Regions from separate parts of the Homo sapiens genome. Here region 1 is reported to be linked to region 2. Evidence: microRNA targets listed by miRTarBase, many of them from high-throughput screens and not tested one by one. Region 2 holds a microRNA gene; the other region holds the end of a gene's coding sequence.
What was found. The annotated mature microRNA hsa-miR-6124 reads GGGAAAAGGAAGGGGGAGGA and lies in region 2 at 2,547-2,566, opposite strand. An mRNA with a match to its seed (bases 2 to 7 or 8) in the 3' UTR can be bound and repressed. Matches are read on the target gene's strand: a 7mer-m8 pairs with bases 2 to 8, a 7mer-A1 pairs with bases 2 to 7 and ends in A, and an 8mer does both.

Region 1 (5,369 bases), not on the chromosome of region 2:
AAGTTGTTGCAAGAAAGATGTTTTATCAGTTGTAGAAAGTGTTTGGGGTTCATATATTCTCAAGAATCTAGTTTTTGCATTACATTTTTGTTGCATTAGGATATTAAGTCTCTAGGTTCTTTTTTTTTCTTCTCGAGACAAGAGTCTTGCTCTGTCGCCCAGGCTGGAGTGCAGTGGCACGATCTCGGCTCACTGCAACCTCCACTTCTGAGTTCAAGCGATTCTCCTGCCCTCAGCCTCCCAAGTAGCTGGGATTGTAGGTGCCCGCCACCACGCCTGGCTAATTTTTATATTTTTAGTAGAGACAGGGTCTCTATCTCCTGACCTCAGGTGATCTATTTGAAGTGGTTTTCATTGTGTTGTAATTGAAGAGCTTTGGCAACCCTCAAAATGCTGATTGAACACCTTGTCCTTTCTTGCAAATTTCATTCCTTACATGTAAGAGAGAGGTTTGTAACTACTTATGCATGGGTTTACTGCAGGTTGTACTCTACTCAAAAAAAAAGTCAAGAAACTCTTTTGAATAATTAGAGTCCCTAATGCCAGACATTTCTGATTTCTTTCTTTTTTTTTTTTTTTTTTTTGAGACCGAGTTTCACTCTTGTTGCCCAGGCTGGAGTGAAATGGCACGATCTTGGCTCACTGCAACTTCTGCCTCCCAGGTTCAAGCAATTCTCCTGCCTCAGCCTCCCGAGTAGCTGGGATTACAGGCGCCTGCCACCACGCCCGGGTAATTTTTGTATTTTGAGGAGACACGGGGTTTCACCATGTTGGCCAGACTAGTCTATAACTCTTGACCTCAGGTGATCCACCCACCTCGGCCTCCCAAAGTACTGGGATTACAGGCGTGAGCCACCACGCTTGGCCTCTGATTTCTTCAATAGTGTTTAAAAAATAATGGGTTTTTTTCATTGTCCTAAACCATCTAAAGTACTCATAGAATATTAAATATGTAACATCCTAAGATATTTGTAGCTATGTCTACCTATCTGTGTGTTTTGACTTGGGATAAGTATTAACATTGGTTTCTGTGCATTTCAGATGACCACCTAAGAAAGGAGGAACAGAAAAGTACTAACATTGAAGATCTTCATGTTTCTCAGGCAGTCAACAGATAATGCTTTGTTTGGGGTATCTTTTGTCTTAAAATTGTATTATTAATTAAATAACTTATTTATTGTCCCAATGTTACCAAAATGCACCACTAATGTTTGTAGAAATTGGAGTTTCTACAAAACACCCCTCATGTTTAACTACATTTGTGAATAAAAGCTAACTCTTGTCATCTAGCTTATTGGATTTGACTTGAAAAAAAAAGTATTGTTTTTACGAAGTATTTTTTGTTTTTTTGAGATGGAGTCTCGCTCTGTCACCCAGACTGGAGTGCAGTGGCACGATCTCGGCTCACTGCAATCTCTGCCTCCCGGATTCAAGTGATTCTCCTGCCTCAGCCTCCCAAGTAGCTGGGAAAACAGGCCTGTGCCACCACACCGGAGTAGTTTTTGTATTTTTAGTAGAGATGGGGTTTCACCATGCTGGCCAGGCTGGTCTTGAACTCCTGACCTCAGGTGATCTGTGTGCCCCAGCCTCCCAAAGCGCTGGGATTACAGGTGTGAGCCACTGAGCCCAGCCATTTAGGAAGTATTATAAAGGCCCTTAAAGTTTGTAAGGAAATGAAAGGGCTTTGTATTACCTTTTCAATAGGCAACAATGTACTTTTTCTTTCCTTAGACTTTGGCTTACTGGAAGATTTAATTAAAAGGTAGAGGAGAAGTAAATTTGCTGTAATAATTTTGCTGTAAATAAAACAAAGAGTTTATTTTATTAGATAAAGAATGTGAAGTAAGCATGAAGAGACAGGCTTTGGGAGAAATACCAGAAAGGGATTTTTCAAAGATGGCATTGTTTAATCTCCGTGTGGCCCTCGGTTGTGCAATCACAGATGAGCCAGAAGAGGGCCAGCCCCCTACTTGTTTGGGCTCCGAAACTCTTACCAAACATCAATTTTTATTCTTGGGATAGAAAAATAGTATGTGCTATCTCTAATACGCTACTTCGATATTTATTAAAGAAGTATTTTTAATGTAGTGTCCACAGGCTCATTTCATTGAAAACAACTGACTATGATGATAGACAGCTCCTGATTGGCAAAAGTTCGATGGTATATTCAGAATTAAATTTTGCCTGCACACCTAAACACTGACAACATTTAGCTTAAAGGTTTTCCATGGAGAAGAGTGGTAAGAGCTGTAGTTAGCAAAATTGGCATCCTCTTTAGGGTGTCAATTCTGTGCTGCTTTGCAAATTGTTGAAACTTTTGATTTTCTGTTTGGCAATGCTAGTCAGTGTTCACTTCTTACAGATTAGCCAAGAATTTTTATCTAAATGCAGAAACTTATTAATGAAATCCATTTAAACTATACTTACACAACATTTTGGGAGGCCCTGCTGGTAAAATTATATATGGATGCAGAAGTATTGCAAGAGTCCATTTTCCATTTTTAAATCTGCAATATCTGATTACATTGATGAATTCCGTTGTATTGTATGTGTGAATATAAATATCTGAATTCTCCCGGGGGACTTGGTTTTCGTCCAAGGATGTTGGCAGTGGACACTTAGTTTACCTCAGGAATTGCAATCATGTAAGACTATATTCGGAAAAAATGCTGGAGTATATAATTTTGGATACTGATATAAAATCATCAAGATGGAAGTTAAGCAGAATTGTCACGTGTAGTCCATAGCGCTTTTATATGCATTATTCTGTAATTTGTTTGTACTGCGGCAACTTTTTATACTTTCAATGTATCATTTAATAAAAAAAATAAGCAAGTCACTTTGGTGCAAAGGGTGTTCATATCACTGTTCTCTCATCAAAAGCCACACATCAAAAACAGAAGAATGATTGGAGATGGCTGCCATGCCTTCCGTCGGGATCTTCAGAAGCTTCGCTGTTGAGGGGTGGAGGCGGGGGTACTTTCCTGCCGTCTGCACATGTTTATAGGAAGGAAGGAAAAGCACAGAGGACAAGCCAACCCTTCTCATAAATGTGTTATATTTAAGTACCTTACTCGTGGGTTTCTTGGAATTGTCGGGAGAACTTATCTTCTAGAGATGCTCCAGAAGTTTTAGGAGAAAACTTGGATTTACACAAAAACAGGATGGGAATGGGAACTGAAGAGGGATTTAGGAAATGTACAACTTGGGTGATCTAAAACCTCATAGCAGGAGCAGAGGTGGCTTTTGAAGAAGATAAATTTAAGCTTAGTGTATATGCTTGCACAGAACAAACTAATAGCCTTATAATGATGTGCAAGAACACATTTGTGTATCACTCACATACCTTTATGTTGATGTAAAATTTGATGTGTTCTTTTAAAGCCAAGTGTACATGAAAGATGAACATTTGTGAGAATATGCCTTTAAAGGCATTTGGGACAATGCTTCCCGGCCACTTGGTACTTGATTTTTTGGTAACAACCACGATTCGAGGATTGTGTGGTGTTCAGGAATCTTATTAAAATAAAAGTGAAATAAAACTGCTGGCCAGGCTTGGTGACTCAGGCCTGTAATCCCAGCACTTTGGGAGGCCGAAGCGGGTGGATCACCTGAGGTCAGGAGTTTGAGACCAGCCTGACCAATATGATGAAACCCCATCTCTACTAAAAATTAAAAAATTAGGCGCGGTGGCATGCGCCTGTAATCCCAGTTACTCAGGAGGCTGAGACAGGAGAATCACTTGAACTGTGGAGGTGGGGGTTGCAGTGAGCTAAGATCGAGCCATCGCACTCCAGCCTGGGCAACGAGTGAAATTCCGTCTCAAAAAATAAAAAATAAAAAAAAAAAAGCTACCTTTAGGCTGGGCATGGTGGCTCACGCCTGTAATCCCGGCACTTTGGGAGGCCAAGGCGGGCGTATCACCTGAGGTCAGGAGTTCGAGAGCAGCCTGGCAAACATCGCAAAACCCTATTTCTACAAAAAATACAAAATTAGCCAGGCGTGGTGGCATGTGCCTGTAATCCCAGCTACTGGGGAGGCTGAGGCAGGAGAATCGCTTGAACCCAGGAGGCGGAGGTTGCAGTGCGCTGAGATCACGCCATTGCACTCCAGCCTGGGCGACAGAGTGAGACTATTCTCTGGAAAAAAAAAACAAAACAAAACTACTTTTATAAAAGTAGACTCGTTTTTTAGAGCAGTTTTAGGTTCATGGCTAAATGGACTGGAAGCACAGAGCTCCTGACTGCCCCCTGCACCCATGCATGTCTAGCTTCTCCCACTGTCAAGATCCGGCATCGAGTGGCACATGTATTCCAATGGGTGGATCTATTTTGACACATTATTATCACAAAAAGTCCATAGTTACATTAGGGTTCACTCTTGGTATTGTACAGATGCTCTTTGACTCATGGGATTACATCTCAAAACTATCACAAGTTGAAAATAAGTCAAAATGCATTTATTTATTTATTGGATAGGGTCTCACTCTAGCACCCAGGCTGCAGTGCAGTTGTGCGATCTGGGCTCACTGCAACCTCCGCCTCCAAGGCTCAAGTGGTCCTTTGCCTCAGTCTCCTGAATAGCTGGGACTATAGGCACATGCCACCACACCTGGTGAATTTTTGTATTTTTTGTAGAGACAGGATCTCACTATGTTGCCCAGGCTGGTCTCGAACTCCTGAATCCAAGTGATCTGCCCATCTTAGCCTCACAAAGTACTGGGATTACAGATGTGAGCCACCATGCCCAGCCCAAAATGTATTTAATACACCTCACCTACCGAGCATCTTAGCTTAGCCTAGCCTACTTAACATGTTCAGGTCACTTAGATTAGCCTACCATTGGGCAAAATTATCAAACACAAATCCTATTTTATAATAAAGTGTTGACCATCTCATGTAATTTATTGAATACTGTATTGAAAGTGAAAAAACATGGTTTTGTCGGTATTCAAAGTACGGTTTCACTGAATGCACCATTTTCCCACCTTCATAAAGTTGAAAAATCGTTAAGTTTAACCATTATAAGTTGGGGACTGCCTGCACATTCCATGGTTTTGGACAGATGTCTAGTGACATGTATTCACCATTTTAGTATCATGCAGAGGAGTGTCACTGCCCTAGAAAATCTTCTCTACTCCACCTATTCCTGTCTCTTCCAGAATGTTGTATAGTTGGAATCGTACAGTACGTGGCCTTTTCAGATTAGCATCTTTCATTTAGTAACAAGCATTTAAGTTTTCTTCCTGCCTTTTTTTTTTTTTAGACAGAGTCTCGCTCTGTCACCCAGGCTGGAGTGCAGTGGTACGATCTCGGCTCACAGCAAACTCCATCTCCCTGATTCAAGCGATTCTCCTGCTTCAGCCTCCT
Region 2 (5,318 bases):
CTTCAGCTTTCTGGACCTCAGTTTGTGGCCTGTTAAATGCAGAGATTGCACATAACATCTGCTTAAGTTCCTTCTAGCATTAAAGATTTATATATAAAGATAACCAGAGTCCAAAATTTTGTGATTATAGCATTTCCCACACCAAATTACATATTGCAGGTTCTTCTGGGTCGTTTTCCTCCGTAACACTACTCAGTCGGGTGTAACATTCGAGTCAGGTGTTACCCTAATACAGAGCCAGTTATCAATCCTGAAAGAGTTCATTTGGCATGATCCTCAGTTCACCCTCATTCTTATCCAAACACAGTCACGCCCAGGGAAAGAATTATTAATATTCAGTGCCAATAATACCCTCATAAATAATCATCAATAATAAACAATAATCCCAAGTGAGATTTTGGAACTGGCACCTGAGCCACTGCTCTAGAGAGCTCTCAGGCCACTCTGCTTGTCCCCTGACACCTCCATTAGAGCCCGTCCTTCTTCTCCAAATAGATCCTGGTCCCCAATCTCTCACCACTGTCACACGCACGTGTGTATACACGCACATATGGTGGCACGGAGGCAGGAGCATGGTGCTCAGCATATGGCAGCGGCTGATAAATGCTTGTGAAATGCTAAAGCCCAGACCCACTCCAGGTGGTGCTGAGATGCATCCACTTTAGCACAAAGGTCGGGGTTCTGGCTGAATTACATTTATTCTTGCTCTGCCTATGGCTAACCAGGAGCTTGGCTTTATGCCTGGTACCTGACAAACCTGTGTCATCTGGCTTAGCATTAATGATCAGCCACATGTATGCAAATGCCCAGCATTTCTTCCTTGACTAATGCTCAGCATAAACCATGACACCAAAGGATGCCTGAACATGGTATGTGAGCAAGACAGTGTCTGTTCATGTTGGAAGAGGTGAGGACCCCTGTTCTGTGTTTTGACTCACAACAAGGAGTACAAGCACCGGCCTCATGGAGCTGGCCATTAACCACCCACACATGAATGTGATATGCCAGGGGCCTGTATCATGGCCAGAATACAAATCAACACTCACTGTAGATGACACCCATTTTTTGTGTGATTTTTTTATTTCTTTCTTTCTTTCTTTTCTTTTTTTTTTTTTTTTTGAGATGGAGTCTCGCTCTGTCACCCAGGCTGGAGTGCAGCGGTGTGATCTCAGCTCACTGCAACCTATGCCTCCTGGGTTCAAGTGATTCTCCTGCCTCAGCCTCCTGAGTAGCTGGGACTACAGGCACTTGCCACCACACCTGGCTAATTTTTTTTGTATTTTTTAGTAGAGATGGGGTTTCACCATGTTGGCCAGGCTGATCTCGAACTCCTGACCTCAAGTGATCCACCTGCCTTGGCTTCCCAAAGTGCTGGGATTACAGGCGTGAGCCGCGACGCCCAGCCAAGGACACCTGTTGATTATCTGTCTCACACTCCCACATCCTTGGGGATTTGCTCCTCCCTCACATCAATCATGTGATGCTTGAAAGGGCTGCCAATCACAGTAGCCAGTTCCTCTGGCTTTGGCCATAATAAATCCAGAAGTGGGCCAATTAGAATCCTTCTCTGAGGTTTTTTTCAATATTGACCTGGAAGAGACAGATTCCAGCCTTTTGGAATGGAGCTATAAAGATGTGAATGAGAGGCTTCGAACATGGAGAAAAATGTGTTTGCAGGAGGGAAGCATGGAGCCAATAGAGAGCAAAGCATCAAAGCACCCAAGTTAAGGTCAGGACTTAAAGTGTCTGGACCTTCCTGTTAATATGAGTCAATGATTTTCCTGTTCTTTGTGGTTATTTTGAGCTGGGTTTCTGAAAAGCACAGCTCAAGTAGCCTAACACAGTCACAGTTCATACTTACAATGCATTCTCAAATGTATCTTCCAGTCCTCAGCATTCAGGCGGTTTTTACGAGATGGGTTATCTCACATGTGAAATGTCTTTGTTCTTCCTCACAAGACAGGCATAAAAATTCCTGGGCAAGAGGCACCTTACCCAGCATCCCTAACAAAAGGAGCTTTCTTTCCCTTTGCATCACAGAAGCCAGTGGTGACCTGCCAACCACAAGATGTGATGACTGTTCTATTTCAAGCTACCAAAGCTTGTAAAATAGAGGCTGGCCACACCAGCTAGGCAACTGGCTAGTATGTTTTGGAAGAAGGGTCTCTTCTTGGTGGTCAGCCCTCCGTTCCATCCCTCTGCTGGCTGACTCCCTGTGACAATCTGTCTTCAGATCACCAAGAGGGTCCCTCAGCAGCCACAACATGTTGGGTGTATGGGGCAATAGCATTCCCTAATAAAAACCAGAGCTCTGAAAACCCTCTGTGAGAGAACACAGTGCAACTGGGCCACCTGACTTTTATGGGACCTTTAAAAAAAAGAAGCCACCATATACAATTACTAAGAGGGATGACACTTTGGAAGCTAAAAGCTTCCCCTCCTTTAACTCTGAAGAGCCACCCCGTGAACTCTGAACCATGAAGTCACAACAACGAGGAAGGGAGGCACTGGGCAGGAGTGGCACCCAGGACATTGGTCTCACCTTCTCCTCCCCCTTCCTTTTCCCTACCTCCCCCATCTCCTCTGCCTAGCTGGAGCATGGTAGGTTATAAACAGGCACTGCCTGGATAGCTAGTCTGCTCTGGGCTGAGGCGACTGGTCTGTTTCAACCTGATGGAATGCTTTTCCTACGTCCCGCAGTGTCAGTGTGCCCCAGGCTCACAGGAGCTTGGCAGCTGTCTCCCCAGGGGCAGTGGAAAGCAGCATATCCCATGGTGGACTCGACAGCTTCTCACCACCAAAACAAAAACACAACAGTCCCGACTGCCATGGAGAGTTCAATCCTCTTGTCCCGGGATTGGCACCGGCTGGAATTCCTAGGGTTCTAGCTGAGCTACCTCCTGTGAGGTCTAAATACAGCACATTCGATTTTAACCTAAACACACAGCCTGCACCAGTGCTCAGGGCTGGTAGTCCCCAACGGCCACCAGGGAAGTCAGCTGAGACGCCTGGACTCCCACCTGCCCATCTGGTGCTGGGCATTTCAGAAATGTCAGAGAAAGGTTGCGATAGTGAGCCTATGTTCGCCGATGCTGTCTATGGCCAAATGATGGGGGATGCAACCAGTTCGTGTAGGCTTAACTATGAGTGTGGTCCTAGGTAGAGAAATGCATCCTGAGGAAGGGAGTGGGCAGGTGGAGAATGCAGGGGTATCAGGAGGAAGAGAAAGAGACAGGGAGGAAGAGGCAGTAAGGACCTAGACCTATTTCTTAGCCAATTAATCCAAAACCAGGGGATCTTTCTAAAATGTCCACACCCAGGCGAACACAACTCTGTAACTATGCCTCTCCCTGAGATTTAGGTCTTAGGCCCTAGAATCAGATGGACTAAGGTTGCCCTCTAGTTGTGTGACCTTGGGCACAACTGACTTCTCAATTTCCCCATCTCTAAAATGGCCTGAAGGACTGCTGTAGCTGTTCATTGAAATCATGGACATAAAGTACCTTGTACCTAGAAGCTGCTCAACAAATAGCAGCTACTAGAAGTAGTAGTAGTGGCAGCAGGGATAATAGAAGTGGGGGTAATATCAAGCATGGGCTTCTCTCCCTCAACTTTGCCTCTGGCTTCCCTCCCTTGGAGAGGGCACGAGTGGAGGGAACCTCCCAGCCAGGAAAAGCTGATGCTTAGAGACAAAGGAAACCTTTACCGGAGGAAAACAATGCAACATTCACACCCACACCTAAGAACCGTAGAGTGCCAAAATGGCAACAGCTTCCTAACCTCCCAAATGTCAACCCACACGCCCTGCAAAGGTAAGACTAGGAGGGTTTCCCCTTACCTTGGTGTTCGTGCACGACTTCCCTCGCTTATACTCTTTGTGGGAACCACGCTTATCCAATTTGTACCACAGGGCTTTGGCTTTCCAGGTGGTCACCTTGGACTTGAGCTTGGAATAAAAGTTTCTGTGGTCCAGAGGGTCTAGGTCCAGGTGTCGTGTGAGAATGTTGAAGGCCTGGAGGGTACCTTTGCACGTGGATGCCTGGACAAAGTTCTCAAAAACCTGCCCCGCCTGGGCCTGCTTCTCATCCTCGTTTTCCCCCATGGTTCAGGAGTCGTGTGCGGCAGTGGTGCGGCGAGGACACAGGTGAACAGCATGAAGTATCTGGAGAAACGTCACACCTGTGAAAGTAGGGGGAGGCAGAGGTCAGCTTTGGACGATGAGGTTAGGGTGGGGGATGGGTGCTGAGAAGTAAAAATGCAATTTCTTTAAGACATTCAAATATTAACCACACTATTTAGTGTTCAATACTAAACATAAATATTTATAACAGATACAGAATTGTGCCTTTTGGCCTGTCGATGTGGCATTGCAGGTAATCTCTTCCCCTATGCTCTGCTCCTCTTGCTGGCTGAAAAGTACCACAGATTGCACAGGGCTATGCCCTGGCTAATGCCAACAGTACCTAGTCAATCTTGCTCTAAGCCAAGTGGTTCTGCAAATAGTGACTAGGAAAAGGGAAAACAACCCAGAAAAGTACACTATATATAGCACCATTGAAAGTCTATCATTCTCGGTGCTGCAAATTGGTTGGCTGATGTGAATATAACCCAGCCACATTACACTAAGGCACAGACAGAAAAAACTCCAGAGAACATCTCTCTAGATTTCATGACTGCCCACCTCTCCGTAGACACCCAGCTTTAAAGCCTTTCTTCATTCGTTACCAGAGAGCAGGGCTTTCCACTATCCACATGACAAACAGTCTCTTCTCAAAACTTCTGCTCCTGGTATCAGCTGGAAGCACACCATCTACCTCAGTCAGACTCACAGACAGACAGACAGAGACACGTGGACCTCCTCCGCCTGTGCAAAGGGGGCCTGTGCTTTGTAATTCCAGGCTGTGAGCTATTTGGAACAAGTGCTCCGGCTCATGGAAGGGAAAAATGCGATGGGTGCTCATTCACATCCCAAAAATAGCTTGCCTGGGCTTTGGCCATGGTCCTTTCTGCACCATTCTAACCTCAGACATTTCTTAGGAAAGTCATTTAAGTTTCAAAGGAACAAAAATAAAGTAGAGCTGATTTTCCAAAGCACTAGCTGTTTTTCCAGAATCCAAAGCTGGCACAAGAAAACAAATGTGGAGGAGCTGGGGCTGACCCAGCTGTCAGGAGGGCTGGAGGGGTCTCTGAGCAAGAGGGCACAGCAGACCGAGCTCCACCGATGAGGCCTGGTAAGAGGAGGTCAGCAGCACACAGAGCGCAGGCCTCACGGCAGCTCTGTGCTCCCCAGAGGGGCAGTGTTCATCGTGGACAAGTTG

Region 1: miRTarBase lists CEP20 as a target of hsa-miR-6124. Seed matches in the 3' UTR shown: 7mer-A1 at 2,222-2,228 and 7mer-A1 at 2,492-2,498.

The regions. Positions count from the first base shown.
Region 1 is chr16:15,863,189-15,868,557 of GRCh38, reverse strand. It overlaps CEP20 (centrosomal protein 20), which reads left to right. Exons shown (of 5, transcript NM_144600.4): 5 at 1,042-2,839. The coding sequence ends at 1,118. Among named protein-coding and RNA genes, the nearest start is that of MYH11, 8.8 kb to the right of the region's middle.
Region 2 is chr11:12,160,940-12,166,257 of GRCh38, reverse strand. It overlaps MIR6124 (microRNA 6124), which reads right to left and starts at 2,575; the gene lies at 2,491-2,575. MICAL2 (microtubule associated monooxygenase, calponin and LIM domain containing 2) reads right to left here. Exons shown (of 28, transcript NM_001282663.2): 3 at 3,839-4,179. The coding sequence starts at 4,102. RefSeq lists an enhancer at 2,335-2,834.